3 linked regions of the Homo sapiens genome follow. The protein of the gene in region 3 purifies or fractionates together with the protein of the main gene of each other region. This does not show direct contact. Each region holds a gene or a part of one and is shown on either strand. Other genes may lie near its edges.

What was found. Proteins that work in one complex are often made in the same cells at the same time.
Region 1: the proteins of ERLIN2 (region 3) and CANX purify together in Homo sapiens (affinity purification with mass spectrometry; 4 studies listed by BioGRID and IntAct, with this or other methods). This does not show direct contact.
Region 2: the proteins of ERLIN2 (region 3) and RNF185 purify together in Homo sapiens (affinity purification with mass spectrometry; 5 studies listed by BioGRID and IntAct, with this or other methods). This does not show direct contact.

The regions. Positions count from the first base shown.
Region 1 is NC_000005.10:179,708,905-179,716,215, reverse strand, and holds part of CANX (calnexin isoform d precursor), read right to left. Parts: intron 7,239-7,311; coding exon 7,157-7,238; intron 6,344-7,156; coding exon 6,151-6,343; intron 318-6,150; coding exon of another isoform or gene 216-317; intron 112-215; coding exon 1-111. UniProt on the Homo sapiens protein: Calcium-binding protein that interacts with newly synthesized monoglucosylated glycoproteins in the endoplasmic reticulum. It may act in assisting protein assembly and/or in the retention within the ER of unassembled protein subunits.
Region 2 is NC_000022.11:31,155,912-31,163,430, reverse strand, and holds the start of RNF185 (E3 ubiquitin-protein ligase RNF185), read right to left. Parts: upstream 3,250-7,519; 5' UTR 3,128-3,249; intron 1-3,127. UniProt on the Homo sapiens protein: E3 ubiquitin-protein ligase that regulates selective mitochondrial autophagy by mediating 'Lys-63'-linked polyubiquitination of BNIP1.
Region 3 is NC_000008.11:37,739,345-37,746,655, reverse strand, and holds part of ERLIN2 (erlin-2), read right to left. Parts: intron 6,292-7,311; coding exon 6,210-6,291; intron 4,885-6,209; coding exon 4,838-4,884; intron 2,302-4,837; coding exon 2,240-2,301; intron 2,086-2,239; coding exon 1,960-2,085; intron 1,088-1,959; coding exon of another isoform or gene 1,053-1,087; exon of another isoform or gene 106-1,052; intron 103-105; exon of another isoform or gene 1-102. UniProt on the Homo sapiens protein: Component of the ERLIN1/ERLIN2 complex which mediates the endoplasmic reticulum-associated degradation (ERAD) of inositol 1,4,5-trisphosphate receptors (IP3Rs) such as ITPR1.

The DNA.
Region 1 (7,311 bases), on a different chromosome or scaffold from region 3:
CCTCAATTTCACGTGAAGGATTTACAGGAGGAGTCATGTCATTGAGCAGATTTCCACTATTCACCACAGATTGGTCAACCAGTATTTCAAAACTATTATCTGGATTCAAGACTGAAAGAAACATTAAATGGAATTAAAAGTACTTAATTTTCCAAGCTCCCTTTACCATAATACAAAAGATCATGACTTCTAACGTGAAGCAGCAGAAGTCTGACCTGAGGCTTTGGGGTAAGAACAATGCCTGGCTCCTGGGGTCTTGGGGAAGCTAACGCCCATTTCCTTATGCACGAAACATAAATGATTAGTCCCTCGGCTTTCTAAGAATTACAGCAAATGATAGTTAAAATCTTTAACACCAAAGACTTGACTTATAGACACTAAAAAAAAAAAACAAAAAAAACAAGAAACTACATAAACTAACACAATTATTGGGCTTACACATATACACCAGTGAGAAGACAAATACGTGGACTTACAACTACTTCCCAGTACAAAAGGTCCATTTCTTCATTTTTAATAGAGCTGGTATTATTACGTTACTGAAATTACACAAACCTCCAATTTATTAAAACGCATGTCCACTCATGATTCTACTTTCTACTTTTTAACTCCCATGGAGAATGAAAAAACAATTTTAAATCCATAAAAGCATTTTTTAAAATTTTATTTTATTTTTTTGAGACAGAGTCTCGCTTTGTCTCCCAGGCTGGAGTGCAGTGGTGTGATCTCGGCTAACTGCAACGCCCGCCTCCCAGGTTCAAGCGATTCTCCTGCCTCAGCCTCCGCAGTAGCTGGAACTACAGACGGCCCCGTGCCACCATGCCCAGCTAATTTTTTGTATTTTAAGTAGAGATGGGGTTTTGCAATGTTGCCCAGGCTGGTCTCAAACTCCTGAGCTCAGGCAATCTGCCCAACCTCAGCCTCCCAAGGTGTTAAGACTACAGGTGTGAGCCACCGTGCCCAGCCACATGGGCCCCATAAAAGCATCTTAAGTGTGATGTATATTAAAGCCCAGATTCCACACCTAGATATCTAATACACAGGAGACTGAGTTACAGCACATCCAAACAAGGAATCCTATGCTGCTGTGTCAGTGATAATGAAAATGAATATTTCTGTGAGGAAGAACTTCACACTCTTTTGTTGTTAAGAAACGGGTGTGGTGGCTCATGCCTGTAATCCCAGCACTTTGGGAGGCTAACGCAGGTGGATCACTTGAGGCCAGGAGTTCGAGACCAGCCTGGCCAACATGGTGAAACCCTGTCTCTACTAAAAATACAAAAACTAGGTGGGCATGTTGGTGCACACCTGTAAACCCAACTACTTGGGAGGCTAAGGCACAAGAATCGCTTGAACCTGGGAGGTGGAGATTGCAGTGTTTCTGTCTCAAATAAAAAAGGGCCGGGCGCAGTGGCTCACGCCTGTAATCCCAGCACTTTGGGAGGCCGAGACGGGCGAATCACGAGGTCAGGAGATCGAGACCATCCTGGCTAACACGGTGAAACCCCGTCTCTACCAAAAATACAAAAAATTAGCCCAGCGTGGTGGTGGGCACCTGTAGTCCCAGCTACTCGGGAGGCTGAGGCAGGAGAATGGCGTGAACCCGGGAGGCGGAGTTTGCACTGAGCGGAGATCGCACCACTGCACTCCAGTCTGGGAGACAGAGCGAGACTCCGTCTCAAAAAAAAAAATAAAAATAAATAAAAAAATAAAAAAGTTAGATATAGCATGTAAAGTTGTATATGTGTATATACACATATTGACAAATATATATCACAATGCTGATGTTTAAGATAATTTTAAGTGACTTCTTTGTGTATGTTTTTATTGACATATCGTACTTGTACATATTTTCGGGGTACGTGTGATATTTTGATACATGTATATAATGTGTAATGACCAAATCACAGTCATTGGACGGGCCCAGTGGCTCATGCCTATAATCCCAGCACTCTGGGAGGCTGAGGCAGGCCCATCATTTGAGGTTGGGAGTTCGAGACCAGCCTGACCAACATGGTGAAACCCCAACTCTACTAAACATACAAAAAAATTGGCCGGGCATGGTGGCGCATGCCTATAGTCCCAACTATTCAGGAGGCTGAGGCAGGAGAATCGCTTGAACCCGGGAGGCAGAAGTTGCAGTGAGCTGAGATCAGGCCACTGCACTCCAGCCTGGGCAACAGAGAGAGACTCCCATCTCAAAAAAACAAAAAGAACAAAACAAAACAAAACAAAACAAACAAATCACAGTAATTGAAATATCTGTAACCTTAAACATTTACCTTTTCTTTCTATTTTATAGAGACAGAGTCTCATTCTGTGACCCACGCTGGAGTGCAGTGGCCCAATCATAGCTCACTGCAATCTCGAATCCTGGACTCAAGGGATCCTTTTATACCACAGCCTCCCGAGCACCTGGGACTAGAGGTACATGCTACCAAGCCTGAATAATTATTTTTTTGTAGGAACAAGGTCTCACTATGCTGCCCGGGCTGGTCTAGAACTCCTGGCCTCAAGTGATCCTCCCACCTCAGCCTCCCAAAAGCGCAGGGATTATAGGCCTGAGCCACTGCACCTGGCTCCATTTACTTTTTCTTTGTATTGGGAACAGTACAATTCTCTTCCAGCTCTTCTGAAATACACCATAAATTGTTCTAACTATAATTTCCCTACTGTACTATCAAATATTAGAATTTATTCCTTCTACCTTATTTCTGTACCAATTAACCAACTTGTCTTCAACCCCTCTCCCTCGCTTTAAGTGTTTTCTTTTTGCTTACTTATGGCTTCTGAATTTCTATACCTTAAATATGTATTACTTTTGGAAATAACAAAAAAAGGTTAAGCTGGGCTCAGTGGCTCACGCCTGTAATCCTAGCACTTTGGGAGGCCGAGGTGGGCGGATCAACAGATGGCCAAGAGTTTGAGATCAGCCTGGCCAACAAGGCTCTACTAAAAATACAAAAATTAGTTGGACATGGTGGTGTGTGCCTGTAATCCCAGCTACTGGGGAGGCTGAGACGGGAGAATCACTGGAACCTGGGAAGCGGAGGCTGCAGTGAGCCAAGATGGCGCCACTGCACTCCAGCCTGGATGACAAAGCAAGACTCCGTCACAAAAAAAAGAAAAAAAGGTTGTTATATTCTAGGCTGGGTACAGTGACTCACACCTGTAATCCCAGCACTTTCAGGAGCTGAGGCGGGCAGATCACTTGAGGTCAGGAGTTCGAGACCAGCCTGGCCAACATGGTGAAACCCGGTCTCTACTAAAAACAGAAAAATTAGCTGGAAAAAAAAAAAAATAATAATAATAAAAAAAAGAAAAATTAGCTGGGCATGGTGGCACAAGCCTGTAATCCCAGCTACTCAGGAGGCTGTGGCAAGAGAATCGCTTGAACCCGGGAGGCAGACGTCACAGTAGGCCAAGATCACGCCACTGCACGCCCACCTGGGTGACAGAGCAATACTCCGCCTCAAAAAAATTAAAAAGGTAGTCCAGGCGCGGTGGCTCACGCCTATAACCCAGCAGTTTGGGAGGCTGAGGCGGGCAGATCACCTGACGTCGGGAGTTTGAGACCAGCCTGACCAACATGGAGAAAACCCATCTCTACTAAAAAAAAAAAAAAAAAAATTAGCCAGGCGTGGTGGCACATGCCTGTAATCCCAGCTACTTGGGAGGCCAAGGCAGGAGAATCGCTTGAATGCAAGAGGCAGAGGTTGTGGTGAGCCAAGATCACACAATTGCACTCCAGCCTGGGGAACAAGAGTGAAACTCCATCTCAAAAAAAAAAAAGGTTATTATATTCTTCAGAAAGAGGCATGCCTATTTATGATCTCAAACTAGCAGGAAAAGCTTCAATAAACAAACAAACCAAAAAAAACCCTGTATCAAAATGATTCAACTCAATTGTCAATTGTCCAGGTATTGGAGCATCCAAATAAGTTCAACTACAAGATACTTCTGAAAAACTATTTTTATTGGATTTATGTATAATTATAAATATAACTTATTCTATTATTCAACATTTCTCAACAACAACAACAAAAAAAAGGAAGAAATTAGATCAGCAAAGCTCTTTGTAGAAAAAAAAAAAAAAAACACCTTTTTTTTTGGAGTGGGGGACGGAGTCTCACTGTGTTGCCCAGGCTGGAGTGCAATGGCATGACCTTGGCTCACCGTGACCTCCGCCTCCCGGGTTCAAGTGATTCTCCTGCCTCAGCCTCCTGAGTATCTGAGATTATAGGCGCCCACCACCCCACCCGGCTAATTTTTGTATTTTCAGTAGAGATGACGTTTCACCATGTTGGCCAGGCTGGTCTTGAACACCTGACCTCAAGTGATCTGCTCGCCTCAGCCTCCCATCGTGCTGGGATTACAGGCATGAGCCACCATGTCCAGCAAAAAATACCAATTTTTTTTTTTTTTTTTTTGAGACAGAGTCTTCCTGTCGCCCAGGCTGGAGTGCAGTGTCACAATCTGGCTCACTGCAACCTCCGCTTCCAGGGTTCAAGCAATTCTCCTGCCTCAGCCTCCTGAGTAGCTGGGATTACAGGCACCCTCCACCATGCCCGGCTAATTTTTGTATTTTTAGTAGAGATGGGGCTTCACCATGTTGGCCAGGCTGGTCTTAAACTCCTGACCTCAGGTGATCCGCCCACCTCGGCCACCCAAAGTGCTGGGATTATAGGCACGAGCCACCATGCCTGGCCAAAAACACCTATTCTATTCTTAAAATTATCTCGAACCTCAGTTCCTGTGGAAAAGAAGTTTTTTGGGTTTTTTGTTTTGTTTTTTGAGACAGCATCTCACTTTGTCACCCAGGCTACAGTGCAGTGGCAAGATCATGGCTCACTACAGTCTCGACTTCCTGGGCTCAAGCAATCCTCATACCTCAGCCTCCTGAGTAGCTGAAACTACAGGCACATGCCACTATACTCAGTTAATTCTTAAGATTTTGTAGAGACAGGGTCTGACTATGTTGTCAGGCTGGTTTGGAACTCCTGGACTCAAGCAATCCATCCGATTCAGCCTCCCGAAGTGTTAGGATTACAGGTGTGGGCCACCATACGTGGCCAAGAAGCTTCTTTTAATGCTGACAAATTAAGGTCATTTCCCAACTAAGATACTAAAGTGAAGAGATTCTTTTCTTTCGTGGAGGGGGTACAGAATCTTCCTCTGCCACCCAGGCTGGAGTGCAGTGATACAATCTTGACTCAACTGCAACCTCTGCCTCCTGGGTTAACGTAATTCTGCTGCCTCAGCCTCCCGAGTAGCTAGGATTACACCAGCTACTCAACACCACGCCCAGCTAATTTTTGTATTTTTAGTAGAGACGGGGTTTTACCATGTTGGCCATGCTAGTCTCGAATGCCTGATCTCAAGTGATCCGCCCGCCTCAGCCTCCCAAAGTGCTGGGATTACACGCATGAGCAACCATACCAGGCTGAGATTCTTCTTGTTTGGAGGCTGGGGTACTCTCCAGATATACAATCTTTTTTTTTTTTTTTTGAGATGGAGTCTTGCTCTGTCTCCTAGGCTGGAGTGCAGTGGCGCGATCTCGGCTCACTGCAAGCTCTGCCTCCCGGGTTCGTGCCATTCTCCTGCCTCAGCCTCCCAAGTAGCTGCGACTACAGGTGCCCACCACCACGCCCGGCTAATATTTTTGTATTTTTAGTAGAGACGGGGTTTCACCATGTTAGCCAGGATGGTCTCGATCTCCTGACCTTGTGATCCACCCGCCTCGGCCTCCCAAAGTGCTGGGATTACAGGTGTGAGCCACCGCGCCCAGCCTTTTTTTTTTTTTTTGAGATTGAGTCTCACTTTCGCCCAGGCTGGAATGCTGTGGCACAATGATCTTGGCTCCCTCCCAGGTTCAAGCAATTCTCCTGCCTCAGCCTCCCAACTAGCTTCGGTTACAGGCGTGCACCACCATGCCTAGCTAATATTTGTATTTTTAGTAGAGGTGAAGTTTCAACATTTTGGCCAGACTGTTCTCGAATTCCTGATCTCAGGTGATCTGCCCATCTCGGCCTCCCAAAGTGCTGGGATTACAGGCGTGAGCCACAGTGCCCGGCCAGATATACAATCTTTAAATTAAATGGATGATATATATGTAATACCATAAGCCCCCAAACTAATGCTTTTTCTTACTTAGTGTGTAAAGATGTGTTTTCTTATCAGTAAAATAGGTCTTCAGATCTGCATCTGGCCTCTTAGCATGTTTTTCTTCATAGATACCCGTTTTGGGGTTTTTGTGTCGGAAGATGAAGTGCAGTTTATAGTCCTCTCCACATTTATCTGGACCAAACATAATCGTATAAGGGGTCTTGTCATGGAACTGATCCTTCAAAAACAAAAAAGGATTATTTGAAGTCACTGTACTCAAAGTGTTCAAAAGCAACGTTTCAAAAGTGTATGATAATTCCTCTTATAAAATTCCAAATATATTAGTGACAGTTAAAGGAAAAGCTAACTACAAGTTTGTTTAGTAAAAAGGAATAACCAGCAATCATCAGTAAATTTAAAATAACGTTTAAGTGTCTAAAAAAAAGTAATGCACACATCTAGACAGTTATTGCTTCCTCATAAAACAAAGAAATAAGCTTGCCAAAACTAAAACTTACACAGAAGCAAAACCAGAAATTCAGATAAAAACAGTTGGTAACAACTTTGTAATTTACACTTCAAATAAAAAGCACGTTAGCGTCAAAGTCAATTTTCCCAACTCATCAAAAGAGTTAAACAGCAGGGGAGGAAGCCTTTATTTTCACAATTATTACAAAATTCTCTTTTTTTTTTTTTTGAGATGGAGTCTCGCTCTGTCGCCCAGGCTGGAGTGCAGTGGCGCAATCTCGGCTCACTGCAAGTTCCGCCTCCCAGGTTCATGCCATTCTCCTGCCTCAGCCTCCCAAGTGGCTGGGACTACAGGCGCCTGCCACCACGCCTGGCTAATTTTTTGTATTTTTAGTAGAGATGGGGTTTCACCATGTTAGCCAGATAGTCTCAATCTCCTGACCTCGTGATCCGCCTGCCTTGGCTTCCCAAAGTGCTGGGAGCTAGGATTACAGGCGTGAGCCACTGCACCCGGCCCAATTACAAAATTCTTACAAGGTAATAGTGGGTGTCCAGCCACATTCCAGAAATGGGAATTACATACCAGGTTGAGTTCTGGTGTTTTAGAAAGCAGTTTCACATAGGCACCACCACATTCTATTCCATTTTGGAAATTAACCTCATACCTAATATCAGAGAGAAAAGCAGAAAACTGTATGGCATTTTGAAAGATCGAAACTCTCTTAATGTATTTCCTCT
Region 2 (7,519 bases), on a different chromosome or scaffold from region 3:
GCTTCAGCCCAGGAGGTCAAGGCTGTAGTAGGCTATGTTCGTGCCACTGCACTCCAGCCTGGGCAACAGAGCGAGTCACTGTCTCAAAAAAAAAAAATGTACACGATGCAGGTCAGGAATTGGCAATTTTTTTTCCATAAAGGGCCATAGAGTAAATACTTCAGACTCTGTGGACCATATGGTTTTTATGGGAAGTAATCAACTCCACTGAGTAGCATTAAAGCACCCAAAGACAATATGTAAATATATATGAATATAAATAAATGGGTGTGACTGAAATGAACACTGAAATTTTATCTTCCTGTAATTGTCACCTATGTAATATTATTCTTCTTTTATTTCCCATCATTTAAAAATGTAAAAAGCAGGCCAGACGTGGTGGCTCACGCCTGTAATCCCAGCACCTTGGGAGGCTGAGGCGGGCAGATCACGAGGTCAGGAGATCAAGACCATCCTGGCTAACACAGTGAAACCCTACCTCTACTAAAAATACAAAAAATTAGCCAGTCATCGGGGTGGGCGCCTGTAGTCCCAGCTATTCGGGAGGCTGAGGCAGGAGAATGGCATGAACCCAGGAGGCGGAGCTTGCAGTGAGCTGAGATGGAGCCACTGCATTCCAGCCTGGGCAACAGAGCGAGACTCCGTCTTAAAAAAAAAAAAAAAAGAAAGAAAAATGTAAAAAGCACCCTTAGCTCACAGACCATATAAACAAGCAGTAGGTCCAGGTTTGGTTCACAGCCTATATATAGTATGCAGATCCCCACTCTAGGTCAGAATTTGCTAACGTGTGCTTCAATTAAAAAAAAAAAAAAGATTTGACATCAAGTAGATTAAACAAATGGAACAAGTTATTATCTTGGCTTATAAGGCACATTTCCTTATTGCAGGACCTCTCAGTGGTTTTAATGTGGTATTACACATTGAGAAGCTCCAAGAAAGAATAATGGTATGTGGCTTTCTCAAACTTATTATTAGCATCAAATCCTTTTTTCAGAGCCACTTCTTCAGACCAGTGGCCTGAAGAACATACTTATGAGAATGTCAATTCAGACACTTCTTTAAAAGGAAACTTTTAGATCGAGAAGTTCTAAAAACTCCAACAAATTAAGATCATTTTACCCAGTACCTGGATAACATCTGAATAAGCATTTCACAACTTTTTTATTTTTTAATCTTGGGAAACACAAGTCGATAACTGGCAGGAAGTTTTGGCTCAACCCTAACTTTTGTGGCGGCGGGGGAGCAAGTCAGCAGAACTGGGTCATAATATGGAGCCTCTGCTCCCTAAGACAACATAAACATTCCTAAGCATTCTAGCAGGTGTTGAAAAAGTGATTTAGGCAGAGCTTTGTAATGCACAAAATAAGGACATAATAATGTTTGATTAGAAAACCAAAGGTATGCTAGAGGCCAGGCACAGTGGCTTACACCTGAAATCCCAGCACTTTGGGAGGCTGAGGCAGGCGGATCACTTGAGGTCAGGAGTTCGAGACCAGCCTGGCCAACATGGTGAAACCCCATCTCTACTAAATACTCAAAAAAAAAAAAAAAAAAGCTGGAACTTGTCATGTGTGTGAACTGGCAAGTCAAGTCTATAAGAGGACTGTTTTTATATGATGCATGGAAAGCTAGCCAACAGACTGCAAAAATTCTCTCACATCTATACACATATTGCTGAAGAGAGGATTCAAGCAGGGATTATGTTCCAGGGAAGAGAAGGCTGGTCTGAACAACCTCAAGGGGTGCTTTCAACTGAGAGTCCTCAATTTTGTGATTCAGAGTTCACTGGCTTCTCCTGGTCAAACATAAAATCTTCAGAGGCATTTCCAACTTGTTCTTAGAAAAAAGCTACTAACCCATGGGGTGGGACCCAGTTTACTTATTCATTCAATAAACATTTAAGGTGCCTCTATCAGATATTGGGTCATTCCAAAGTCCTTGAAAAGAAGGATGGTGCACAGGACAACCAGGAAGAGATTATGTAAGGTCAGATGCATTGGCCTTATTTACAGGAGATGTAGGCTAAAGTGATGGAAGTGTCAAAAGAGAAGAAAAAAGTCACATTTGCCTTGAGAGCAGAGTCAGCACCAGAAAGATGCAGAACAACTCCTTGGAATCACAGACTTTCAAGTTGGAAAGGACCTTCATCTAATACCTATATACCTCCCTCGAAAGGAGGCACGGAGGCAATCCATTCACTCCATCGGTGGTCACCTCTGACGATTCTTCCATTTAAGTTCTTCTATTAAGCAAAAATCTTGCCTTCCTGTAGAATTCACCTGTTAGTCCTAGTTCTGCCTCTTTTAGCCTAAAGATGAAGTGGAAGCCCTCTTTGCCGTAACAGTATTTTCAATTTTTAAAAAGTTAATTCCCTTCCAGTGCTCTCTTTACTGAGCTAACCATTCCAGTTCTTTCAAAGTTCCTGAACTGGCACCAGCTGCCTCAAAGCGAAGAATGGATATCTAGTGCTCACAGCAGGAAAGCACTTAAAATCAATGAGCTTCAAACATTAGTATATACAGGACCCCCCTACGCATAAGTTCAGATTCTAAACCAGAAGTCTGAATTGAGTCCCGCGCTGTAAAGCCGGCATCTCAGAGAATTACAAAGCAGATGGTGTAAGAACCATATTTTGAAAAACACTGCCCCGTTTTAGAGACGAGAAAACTGAGGCCCAGCACAGGGAAGAGATTTGGCCCAGAACGCACAATTGTCTGTCGGTGGCGAAGTCTCGAATCCAGGTCTCTTACTTTCAGCCCAACTCTGTTCACCGCGCTCCCCGGCCTCTGCTTCTCCACTCAGGGCAAACTCGTGAAATGCACTCCCAGATGATAGAGGCGGTCTCGCACGGGGGATAGAATGGGAATCAGTGCCCATGCCTCGAAAGGAGAGCTTGTGGGAGCCCTTCTCTTTCGCAAGGCCTCAGTTTCCCCAATCTGTATTCATGGGACGCAGAACCACAACGCCAGCTCGTCCTCTTTTCGGGGACAGACACGACCGGTCTTGCTGTCTCTGGGCCCCTGGGCTCAGATGTTCAAGCCCGTGTGTCCTGGGAAGGCGGACCCGGGTCTCCCGCCCCCGTCCCTAAACTTTGGCGCCCCCGCCCCAACCCCAGCCCCTCACATACCTGCCTCCGCACAGTTAACGCCAGCCCAGTCAATCAGTTTTTCGGGTACACGGCCAATACTAACGCCGCGTCAATCTGTTGGGTAAGACCTCCGACCCCTCCTACGCGGACTCCAGTCACATGACGCGGAGCCGCCCCTCTCGGAGGGACTTCCGGCCCCAACCGGAAGAGGTTAATTTCCATGGCTGAAGCTCTAAGGTTCCGCCTGCGGGCAGGAAGCGGAGGAACCTTGGAGCTTCGGCAGCTTTTCAAAGAGCTTTGGGTTCGGGGCTCCTAAAAGAAAAAAACTGATTCCGGCCGGGCGCGGTGGCTCCCACCTGTAATTCCAGCAGTTTGGGAGGCCGCGGCGGATGGATCACTTGAGGTCAGGAGTTCGAGACCAGCCTGGCCAAAATGGTGAAACCCCTCTGTACTCAAAATACAAAAAGTAGCCGGTCGTGGTGGCGCACACCTGTAATCCCAGCTACTCGGGAGGCTGAGGCAGGATAATCGCTTGAACCCGGGAGGCGGAGGTTGCAGTGAGCTGAGATCGCACCACTGCACTCTAGCCTGGGCGTCAGAGTGAGACTCCGTCAAAAAAAAAAAAAAAAAAGAGAGAGAGAAAGAACTAACTCATTCCGGAAAGTACCAGATAAACTTGGAACATCTTGTTACACCAGAATATAAGGATGATGGTAATAAGAATCATGGGAATGTGTCAAAGAACACAGGAGCTGTCTTTAAGGAGATCTTACTGGCCAAGTCAGGGCAATTTCAGAATCAAAATATGGAGTGATAGTAATAGAGTATAACTAATTGAATAAAATAGTAATCCATGAGTCTTTACAAACATAAAGAAGTGAGCATATTAATGGGTGAAGGGAAAGTCTTCCTTTTAGTAGAATGCTAGCTAATAAACATGGTGGAATTAGGAAATCAATAATGTGTGGTAAAACTAGAGAAACGGGATGTTTACAACAGCAAAAGTGTCTCCCATAAATTAGCTATTGATTACAAAGGGAAAATGGTGATGTTACAGAGGTTTAACCTAGCAGAACAAACAGATCAAAGTGATCAAAGTTAACACCACTAGTTAATGGGTCAGATCAAGGGCCTCCTAATAAAATGCACTGAGAACACATCTGTGGTATTTCTGTCAAAAGTGCACCGTACACATCTCATGAGGAAGTGCTAGAGAACCCCAAATGAAGGACACTGTCTACAAAATAACTCATTGTCATGAAAAACAGAGAAAAGCTGAGGAACTGTTCCAGTTTAAAGGAGACTAAAGAAGCATGACAACAAAATGTGGTGTGTGATTCTAAATAGGACCCTGGACTGGGGTAGTGGTGGTGGTGGAATAGTTGTAATGGACAATATTGGGACAAGTAATGAAATTTGAATATGGATTGTGGATTAGCTGTTAATACATATTGTATCAAATCACATACTGATAGGTGATGGAGCTTGTGATTTGCACTCAAGCAGTCATTGGAGTTCTTGACAGCCATCTTCATTCATTCAACAAGCATTTATTAAGTACCTACAGTTATCCCAGGAACGGTTAGGGATCGGACCTGAGTAGGAGGTGAACATAGTAGATAAAGGCCGGCGCGGTGGCTCACGCCTATAATACCAGCACTTTGGGAGGTCGAGGCAGGCAGATCACCTGAGGTTAGGAGTTCGAGACCAGCCTGGCCAACATGGTGAAACTCATCTCTACTAAAAATACAAAAATTAGCCAGGCGTGGTGGCGGGCACCTGTAATCCCGGCTACTTGGGAGGCTGAGGCTGGAGAATTGCCTGAACCCAGGAGACAGAGGTTATAGTGAGCCAAGATCGTGCCATTGCACTCCAGCCTGGGCGACAAGAGTGAAACTCCATCTCAGAAAAAAAAATAAAAAATAGTAGATGAAATAAGCTCATAGATGAAAGTCCTAGTCTGCCAGCCACCTTTGCAAGTTCCTGTGATCAAGAAGTAATACAAGGGATGTTTCCAGTCACACAAACCTGGATTTGAAACCAAGCGCTAAGAGAAAAACAGCCCCTGACATCCAGGAGATGGTCTGGCACTCACAAATAGACCTTGGTGTGTTCTCTTATTGAACATAAAAACTTCACAGAACATCAACATCAAACAAAGCCACTATGTGACCATGATGGATCAAGACAATAACAAAACCACTTGAATCATGTCTAAACCCAGACAAAACATGAGCATTGTTCGAACTACAAAAATGGCCAAACATTTCCCTATTCTGGCTTGTATAGAGATTATAGATTTAGCCTCGGTCTACTCTTCCCTCCTTCTAAATAATGTTTATCAAGGTACTCACTCATAGGCAGCATCCAATCCAGAAAACCCCATTTTCTTAAGCCCTCGTCCAAATCACCTAATGCAAGCCCAAATCCTATGTGTCCTTTGTAACACTTTGTTACTGAGATGCCCCTTTGTTTGTTTGTTTGTTTGTTTGTTTGTTTTTGAGACAGAGTATCACTCTATCACTCAGGCTGGAGTGCAGTGGTGTGATCTCGGCTCACTGCAGCCTCTGCCTCCTGGGTTCAAGTGATTCTTCTGCCTCAGCCTCCCAAGTAGCTGGGATTACAGGCGCCCACCATCACTCCCGGCTAATTTTTGTATTTTTAGTAGGGACAGGGTTTCACCATGTTGGCCAGGCTGGTCTCGAACTCCTGACCTAAGGTGTTCCTCCCACCTTGGGCTTCTACAGTGCTGGGATTACAGATGTGAACCACCAAGCCCAGCTGCCCTATTGTTTCTCATGATTCATGTCCTCTCACCCTTACCCCATAACAAGTGATAAACTCAACTTGTTTAACCACAGGTGTGTTCCAATTTCTTCCTTCCTCAAAAAGTTGTTATGAGGATACTCGGAACAGGTTCATCACAGAGTGAGCTTTCTCTATCAATCGATCCATTATCTATTTTTTATTTTTTTAAAAAAACATGGTCTCAGCCTGTGGTCCAGACTGGAGTGCAGTGGCACACCATCCTAACTCACTGCAGGCTTCAACTCCTGGGCTCAAGTGATCCTCCCACCTCAGTCTCCTGAATAACTGTGACTACAGGCACGCACCACACCCAGCTAATATTTTTTATTTTTCTGTAGAGACAGGGTCCTGCTGTTGCCCAAGCTGGTCTCAAACTCCTGGCCTCAAGGGATCCTCCCAGTTTGGTCTCCCAAAGTGTTGGGATTACAGGCATGAGCCACCTCACCCAATGCTTTCAATATACTTTTAAAAATTATACATATATTTTTGAGACAGCACCTCACTCTGTCACTCAGATTGGAGTACAGTGATGCCATCTTGACTCACCTCAACCTCCGCCTCCCTAGCTCAAGCGATTCTCCTGTCTCAGCCTCCTGAGTATCTGGGATTACAGGTGCATGCCACTACCACCCAGCTAATTTTTGTATTTTTAGTAGAGATGGGATTTCACCATGTTGGCCAGGCTGCTCTCGAACTCCTGACTTCAGGTGATTTGCCCTCCTCAGCCTCCCAAAGTGTTGGGATTACAGGCGTGAGCCACCACGTTTCCCCCTCAGCTTGCATTGTTTCTGGGAGAACCTGCACCATACCTTTATCTATAGCTTTCCCCCAGGTCTTAAGAAGCACGAAGTTTTAACTGTGGACACGGGATTTGGTGAAGCAGCAATCACGACTGTGGGCACGAGTAGCAAGGCTGCAGCAGCACATTGACTATAGAATGAAATGCATCCTACAGGAAGGCACAATCTTCTTTGGCATCTTTAAGGCGTTTGACAAGCATGTGAATTTGATCCTCTGCGATTGTGATGAGTTCAGAAAGATCAAGCCAAAGAACGTGAAGCAACCAGAGCTCGAAGAAAAGCACTTTTGGGGTCTGGTGTTGCTGCATGGGGAGAACTTGGTATCCATGACTGTGGAGGGGCTACCCCCAAAATATACTGGCATTGCTCGGGTACCACTTGCTGGAGCTGCAGGAGGCCCTGGAGTTGTTAGGGCAGCTGGTAGAGGAGTATCAGCTGGTGTACCAATTCCCCAGGCTCCTGGTGGATTAGCAGGCCCCGTCCCAGGAGTTGGGGGACCATCCCAGCAGGTAATGACTCCACAGAGAAGAGCATTACTGGAGCCCCAACACAGTACCCACCAGGACCGGGGGCTCCACCCCCACCTGTTGGCAGAGCAGCCCCACCTCTAGGCATTATGTTTCCTCCACCTGGTATGAAACCACCCATGGGCCCACCAATTGGGCTTCCCCTTGCTAGAGGGACGCCAGTAGGCATGCCCCCTCCAGGAATGAGACCCTTTCCACCAGGAATGCATCCACCAAGACCCTGGGATATTGCTGATCCATCTCAGTCACTTTTCCCCCTGCAATGCATCTTGTGAAATTGTATAGTGTTTGTGAGC
Region 3 (7,311 bases):
CAAGGGAGCTGCCCTCTAGTCGGGCAGCTAGTATTGCTTCCTTGCATGGATACATAGGAGGGATACATTATAGATTAATAAATGATAGTGAGATAAACAAAATGATCTGTTGTGTATCTTTTACTTTACATTTGCTATTTACAGAGGAGTGTTGTATACATAGGTATTATTTTATGTCACACTGCTTCAGTGATAACTATATCCATGTGTTTGTATCCATGTTTTTATCCATTCAACTGTATTAAAAGGTGTTGGGACAGGAAAAAAAGTTGTATTACTAAGTACACACAAAGAGGTTCTTCAGGTAAACTTCAAAGTATTAGATAATACTTTAATAACATGGGCAAAGAGGATGCGGCAGAGTAAGAAGTGATGAAAATTATGCAGCTTCATGTTTAAAGTCTGGGCTATAAGAGTCCTGAGAGAAGGAAAGTATAGAAGAACCTTCTGAGTTGAAGGGCCAGGACTAGAGACATGAGCTCCTCCTTTATGGATATGACAGATTCTAAGCCAAGTAGTGCTTGCTAGCAAGACTGAGATGTAAAAATAAAAAAGTTTCAAAGCAAATATATTTCCCCAGCTCCTCCATACAAGCAGCTGTACTTCACTAAGCTACCAAGTTTAGCTGTAAGAAAGTAAGAAGTTTGCTAATGAAAAACAACTTTGTATTTTAATTTCCTCTTCAGGGACATTAGGGATCCTTTGTCTTTTTTCAGTGCTTTGAAATGTTCATGTAATGTCACAAGTCCTAAGACAATGGCTAGAGAAAATTAATATTTTATAAAATTCTATTAGTTTGAGGTTAAAAAGAAAAATCAACGGCAAATTTACCAACTTTTTCTTAAAAGCACAGTGAATCCAAAACAGATAAAAGACTACAAACCCTATAAAATGAATTTAGATTCATTTTCTACTGCAGAAACATTAAAAGTAATTTGGATGATTTCCTAAATCTTAAATGGTGCAAAAGGCGGTTTGCTTAATTATGATTGCTGGCGATGTGGATGAGTCCTCCTGTCTGCTATGAAAAATGTTCTTGCTCAGGGTCCCTTTTATGAAGATTCCTGGGAAAAATCATTTTCCAGTCCTAGTGTCAAGAACAGTTATACTATTGGTTAAAAATTCATTTACTTTTGGCATTGGCTATTAGAGAATTTCTGGCAGTGAGTTTAAACAGAATACTTGACTGCAAACAAGTTATAACAGTTACCCAACTGTGTCCTTCCTTTGCTGCTAAGTCAGGTTGCCTTTACTTTGAAAAAGGTAAAAAGGACAAAACATATCTACTTAGGCACGTGGAATCTTTTTGTTTAAAGTGTTTTTCTATTCGTTGCTACAGGTACAGAGTAAAAAAATAATAATCACAAAGGTTCTGAGAACTGGAAGGAGCTATGGTTCTCATCTCACTTCTAGAATTAACTATGAATCATGTCTTTTTCATCACCCATTCCTGGGGGCCCTCCATTCAGTGTTGCATGGTGAGAAGAATGCTGAAGAGCCAGGAGAGGAAGGCTCCTGTTTCAGCCCCACTACTAATTGGCATCTGGCTCTGTGACTTTCTTGCTTTGGGTCACAGTACCCTCAGCTTAAAATGAGGATGCTGGTCTGGACAATCTCTAAGGTTCTTCTAGAATGGACCTTGTCTTCATTATAGAATGATAGTTTAGGAACAGTGGGAACACATTTCCACTCCAGCCTCTGATTGAGGCCAGAAGTGAATACTCTACTCCACTATGGTCCCTGTGCCCAAAGCTCCAGCCCTCTAAGGATCTTGTTGCATAGCTATCAGCATTCTCCATGAACTCCTTTGTGACCAGCTCCTGAGCACAAGATTCTTTAACATTTCCTGTCCATAAGTGACCATCACACCCTGCAGGCAGCCAGGCTTTAGGCAGTGGAGAGACGCGGGGTTCCAGGAACCCTGCTTAAGCACGGCATGCTCAGGAGAGACTTTCTTACCAAACAGCTCAATGTAGACCTCTTGAAGCGTGTGCACACTGCAGAACTGGTTCAGTTCGTGGTGGATCTTGTTGAAGATGAGGGCCTTGTCATAGTCAGCAGTATAGTTCTTCACTATATCATACACTGAGAGGGAAGGAGAGGGCTTGGCATAAGAAAAGGCAAGACTCAAAATGCCCTCAGACACGGCAGCTCTCCTTTTCCAAGGTGCTACAACAGACACGGGAGTGGCATGCTGGGGAAAGTGAGCTGGTGGTGGGAATAAACTGTTAAGACGTACCTGCGTTCGGGACCAGGAAGTTCACCACTTCAATTCTGTCAAAGTAGATCATCACACCACCACTATTGGAGGGAGAATGGACAAGAAGTCACTGGGAAGCCTTAGAATATGGTGCAGTCCCCCAGGGTGATGGCGTAAGATGTGGGGCTTGGCAGAAAAGGAGTAGAAGAGTTCACGGGAAGTTGGAAGGCAGCTTGGATCTCCAAGTGGGAGGTTCTGCAGGGCTCATGGCAACAACATACTCTCCTGAGAAATCACACTGCCTAGGAACATCTCTACAAAGACATGAATGAGACTTTTGGGGACCAGTACGAAAGAGTAACTCATATCTTTGGAATCAGCAATGCCTTTTGATTAATCAGTTGCACGGAAAAGACTAAGGAGGGTCAAGGTGAAGTTTTCAGAACTTAGAAGGTTACTGTGGAATGTTATGATCAATGTTTCTTAAACTGTCTTCACTATTACTTTGGTGTCACACTCCCTTTGCCCTCAAATATTTATTATAAAAAGATTTCAAACATAGAGAAGCCGAAAGAGTAGTATAACTAACATCCATATCCAGATACCTGAATTCAACACTGATAACATTTTACCTTATTTATTGACCTTTTTTTTTTCTGAACATTTCAAAGTAAGCTGCAGTTAGGATACTTTACTCCTTTACTTTGGTGAGCACTGTCTTAAGAATAATCATTCTCCTACACACTCATGGTATCATTCCCAAGCCTAAGAAAATTAGCAATAATTCTGTAATATCACCTAATACCCAGTCCTTATTCAGATTTCCCCAACAGTTTGTGTTATGGACTGACCTGTGTATGCCTCGCCCCCAGATTCATATGTTGAAGCCCTAACCCCCAATGTGACTGTATTTGGAGATTAGACCTTTAAGAAGGTAATTAAGGTTAAACAGGTCATAAGGGTGGGCTGTAATCCAAAAGGTCTGGTATCCACCAAAGACCTTTTTCTCTCTTCTTGCACATACAGAGGAAAGGCCTTGTGAGGATGTGACAAAAAGGTGGTCACCTGCAAGCCAGAAAGAGAGGTCTCACCAAAACTACCCCTGCTGTTACCCGGATCTTGGACTTTGGGCCTTCAGAATGGTGAGAAAATATCTATTATTTTAGTCCCTTGGTGTGTAGTCCTCTGTCATGGCAGCCTGAGTGGACTCATATAGTTTCTGTCGTATCTGTTATAGCTGTTAATTTTGAACCAGGTTCTAATCAATGCTCACCCTTGCTTCTGTTTATGTTTCTTGTAAGTCTCTGTCCAATCCAGCATCCCTCTAAATACAACCACTTTGTGAAGAGATCAGGCCTGCGATCTTGTGGGATGTTCCAATTCCGGATTTGTCAGAGTGTTTCTTTGTGGTATTCTTTGTCACTCTATCCCAGTTTAAACTGTCTTTGCTTTCCAGTGGGACCGCTGTAGCAGTGTTCTCTTCGGATCTCTTTGCCCTGAAGGTCTCCCCTACCTTTATGACATTCTCTTTAGTTATGCAAGTTATCTTCTTGTATCAGGTCATTTATCTGCTAAAAACCTTTGTGCATCCTCACTTCTTTTTTTGTTTTTAACGTTAAAATTTTATTTTATTTTCCATTGTTTAAATTCAGAGGTACATGTGCAGGATGTGCAGGTTTGTTACATAGGTAAACGTGTGCCATGGTGGTTTGCTGCTCAGATCATCCCATCACCCAAGTATTAAGCTCAGCATCTATTAGCTATTCTTCCTGATGCTCTCCCTCTCCCCACCCCCTATCCACTGACAGGCCCCAGTGTGTGTTGTTCCCCTCCATGTGTCCATGTGTTCTCATCATTCAGTTCCCACTTATAAGTGAGAACATGTGGTGTTTGGTTTTCTGTTCCTGCATTAGTTTGCTGAGGATAATGGCTTCCAGCTCCATCCATGTCCCGTGCAAAGGACATGATCTTGTTCCTTTTTATGGCTGCATAGTATTCCATAGTATATATGTATCACATTTTCTTTATCCTGTCTATCGTTGATGGGCATTTGGGTTGATTCCATGTCTTTGTTATTGTGACTAGTGATCCTCACTTCTTTTTTTTTTTTTTTTTAAAGACGGAGTCTCACTCTGTCGCCAGGCTGGAGTGCAATTGTGTGATCTTGGCTCACTGCAATCTCTGCCTCCCAGGTTCAAGTCATTCCCCTGCCTCAGCCTCCCGAGTAGCTGGGACTACATGCATGCACCACCACACCCAGCTAATTTTTGTATTTTAGTAGAGACGGGGTTTCACCATGTTGGCCAGGATGGTCTCGATATCCTGACCTCATGATCCACCTGCCTCAGCCTCCCAAAGTGCTGGGATTACAGGTGTGAGCCACCGCGCCCGGCCGATCCTCACTTCTAATAGAGTAAGTGCAAACTCCTTATCACATACAGCATTCTAGCCCCTCCTGAACCTTCTATGATTTCCTCTACTGCACTCCATCACCTGGTCAAATCAATATAGGGAGCTACGAGACAGGGAATTAACCAAGAAAGGGTGCCTCCCTTTTCACTGTCTCTTCCTGCAACCAGCCAGACAGCCTTTTCTCTGACTTATTTGGGCTTAAAAGCTTTATTCTGGGTACCTTACCTAGTCCCACAAGGTACATTCTTCACCTCATCTGTCTGGAGTGTGGTCTGGAAACAGAGGAAACATAAAGTGCTAGAAGATGGGCAGTGACAAAGTAACTTACTTTTCAGAATCCTAAATGCCTTTGTCCTGGAATAACTGTTTGGGTTGAGCATGGCCTTCATTAAACATGATTACCCCACCTAATCCTCCTTCCTCACAGGGTTGCTAAGCCAAGTAAAGGCCCGTGCCCCAGCCTCACTATAAGTGAACCACCACATCAACAAGCTGAGTAATAATGGTTTAGTGAAGATGACACTGGATTGGGCATCTTAAGACTTGTGCTTGCTTCTACCTCTTCTATTTATGTTAGGCACCGCTTTATGTTCGAAGGCCCCCAGTGGATGCTTGAAACCGGGGAGAGTACCAAACCCTATAACACATACCTATGATAAAGTTTAATTTATAAATTAGGTACAGTAAGTGATCAACAATAATAAAATAGAACAATTATAACAATATACTGTCATAAAAGTTATTTGAAGGTGGTCTCTCTCTCTCTCTCTCAAAATATCTTATTGTACTGTAGTCACCTGTTTTCAGACCATGGTTTATTGTGGGTAACTGAGCCTGTGGAAAGTGAAATAGTGGATAAGGGGGAGGGCTGTTGTACTAGTTTTGAAACAGCAGATTACCTATTTAACCTGTCTCAGACCCTAGCACATGCTCAGCCCATTCTCAGGATTACTACAAGACTCAAATGAGACAATGTACCTGAATGCAGTTTGAAAGCCACAAAGCCTGGTAAACAGCACATGAAACTTACAGGGAAAATGCCTAGCAGGTATCCCAAGACATTCTCCTGGGTCAGTGTAAAGTGTAAAATCTTGTTATTCTTCTTAGCTGGACATACTTCAGAGATGGCAAGTCCAACTTAGCCAGGCTTTAGATCTGCCACAACTAACCTCACTCCTATTTTAGATGTCACCTCCCCTCACTTAGTTTAACTCCTCCCCACTCACTGCAAAAATTATGTTCGTATTTCTGAATTCAAATAAGAATCAGCAAAATTACTATGTTTTCTTTCCATTTAACATGGTAGCCTGTGATTTAAAACATACACACATAAACCCTGACTTTTCTTTCCATATACTCAGAACAGGTTCTTCTCTGGCTTTATCTTGAAGGAATAATCCCCAGCCTCATTTTATATATATATAGTGTATGTGTGTATATATATATATATTATATATATATAATATGTATATATTATCCTTATATCATTCTCTAGAATGGCATTTTACTCATCCAATGGCTAAATAATTTCAAATCATGCACTAGTTAACAGCCCAAGTTTGCAGTCGTCCAGCCATACCACAGAGGCCAAGCATACCTGCACAGACTTATATGATGTGATGAAAGGGAGCATGAGATGGAAACCAGGGCCGCTGGTCGAAGTCAGCAGGGCACCGCCTCTGCAGAGGAGGGGGAAGAGAGAGGCAGCTTCAGTTTGGCAAGAAGGCTCTGTTAGATCAATATCATGAGGGTCAACTTTCCCTTCAGCCCTATAAACATATAATAGAGAGTGACATGTGCTGCAGCCATGGCTACAGATCCCTTTCTTCCTCTCAGCTAGATCCTAATATTCTAGGAAGCCTGATGGTAAAACATAAAACTATTGTTCATGCTTTTGCAAGGAGAAAAATAGGCACATAGGCTAAATGGAATAAAGACAGCAGAACCCACTAGTGCAGTCCCAGCGCTTTGCGGGGCTGAGGTGAGAGGATTGCATGAACTCAGGAGTTTGAGACCAACCTGTCTCAAATAGTGAGACCCTGTCTCTACAAAAAAAGAAAAGGAAAAAAATTAGCTGAGTGTGGTGGTTGTATGCCTATAGTCCCAGCTACTTGGGAGGCTGAGATGTAAGAATTGCTTGAGCCTGGGAGGTTGAGGATGTAGTGAGACATAATTGTGCCACTGCACTCCAGCTTGGGCAACAAAGTGAGACTCTGTCTAAAAAAAAAAAAGAAAAAGACAGCAGAATCCATGGGTATACTTAGATAAGAGAAAGTCTGGCCAGGCGCGGTGGCTCACGCCTGTGATCTTTGGGAGGCTGAGGTGAGTGGATTATTAGGTCAGGAGTTCAAGACCAGCCTGGCCAACATGGTGAAACCTCGTCTCTACTAAAAATACAAAAATTAGCCAGGCGTGGTGGCAGGCACCTGTAATCCCAGCTACTTAGGAGGCTGAGGCAGAGAATTGCTTGAACCTGGGAGGCGGAGGTTGCAGTGAACCAAGATCTCACCACTGCACTCCAGCCTGGGCAACACAGCGAGACTGTCTCAAAAAAAAAAAAGATAAGAAGTCTGTTTTACTTTGTCATATCTGTTGGGCTTGTGGCAATCCATTAGGGCAGTTAAGTCCAGTAATATGGTTATCAACTACCTGCACTAATGCTGGAGTCCAATGACATGACCAACCAAAAGAATAATTTG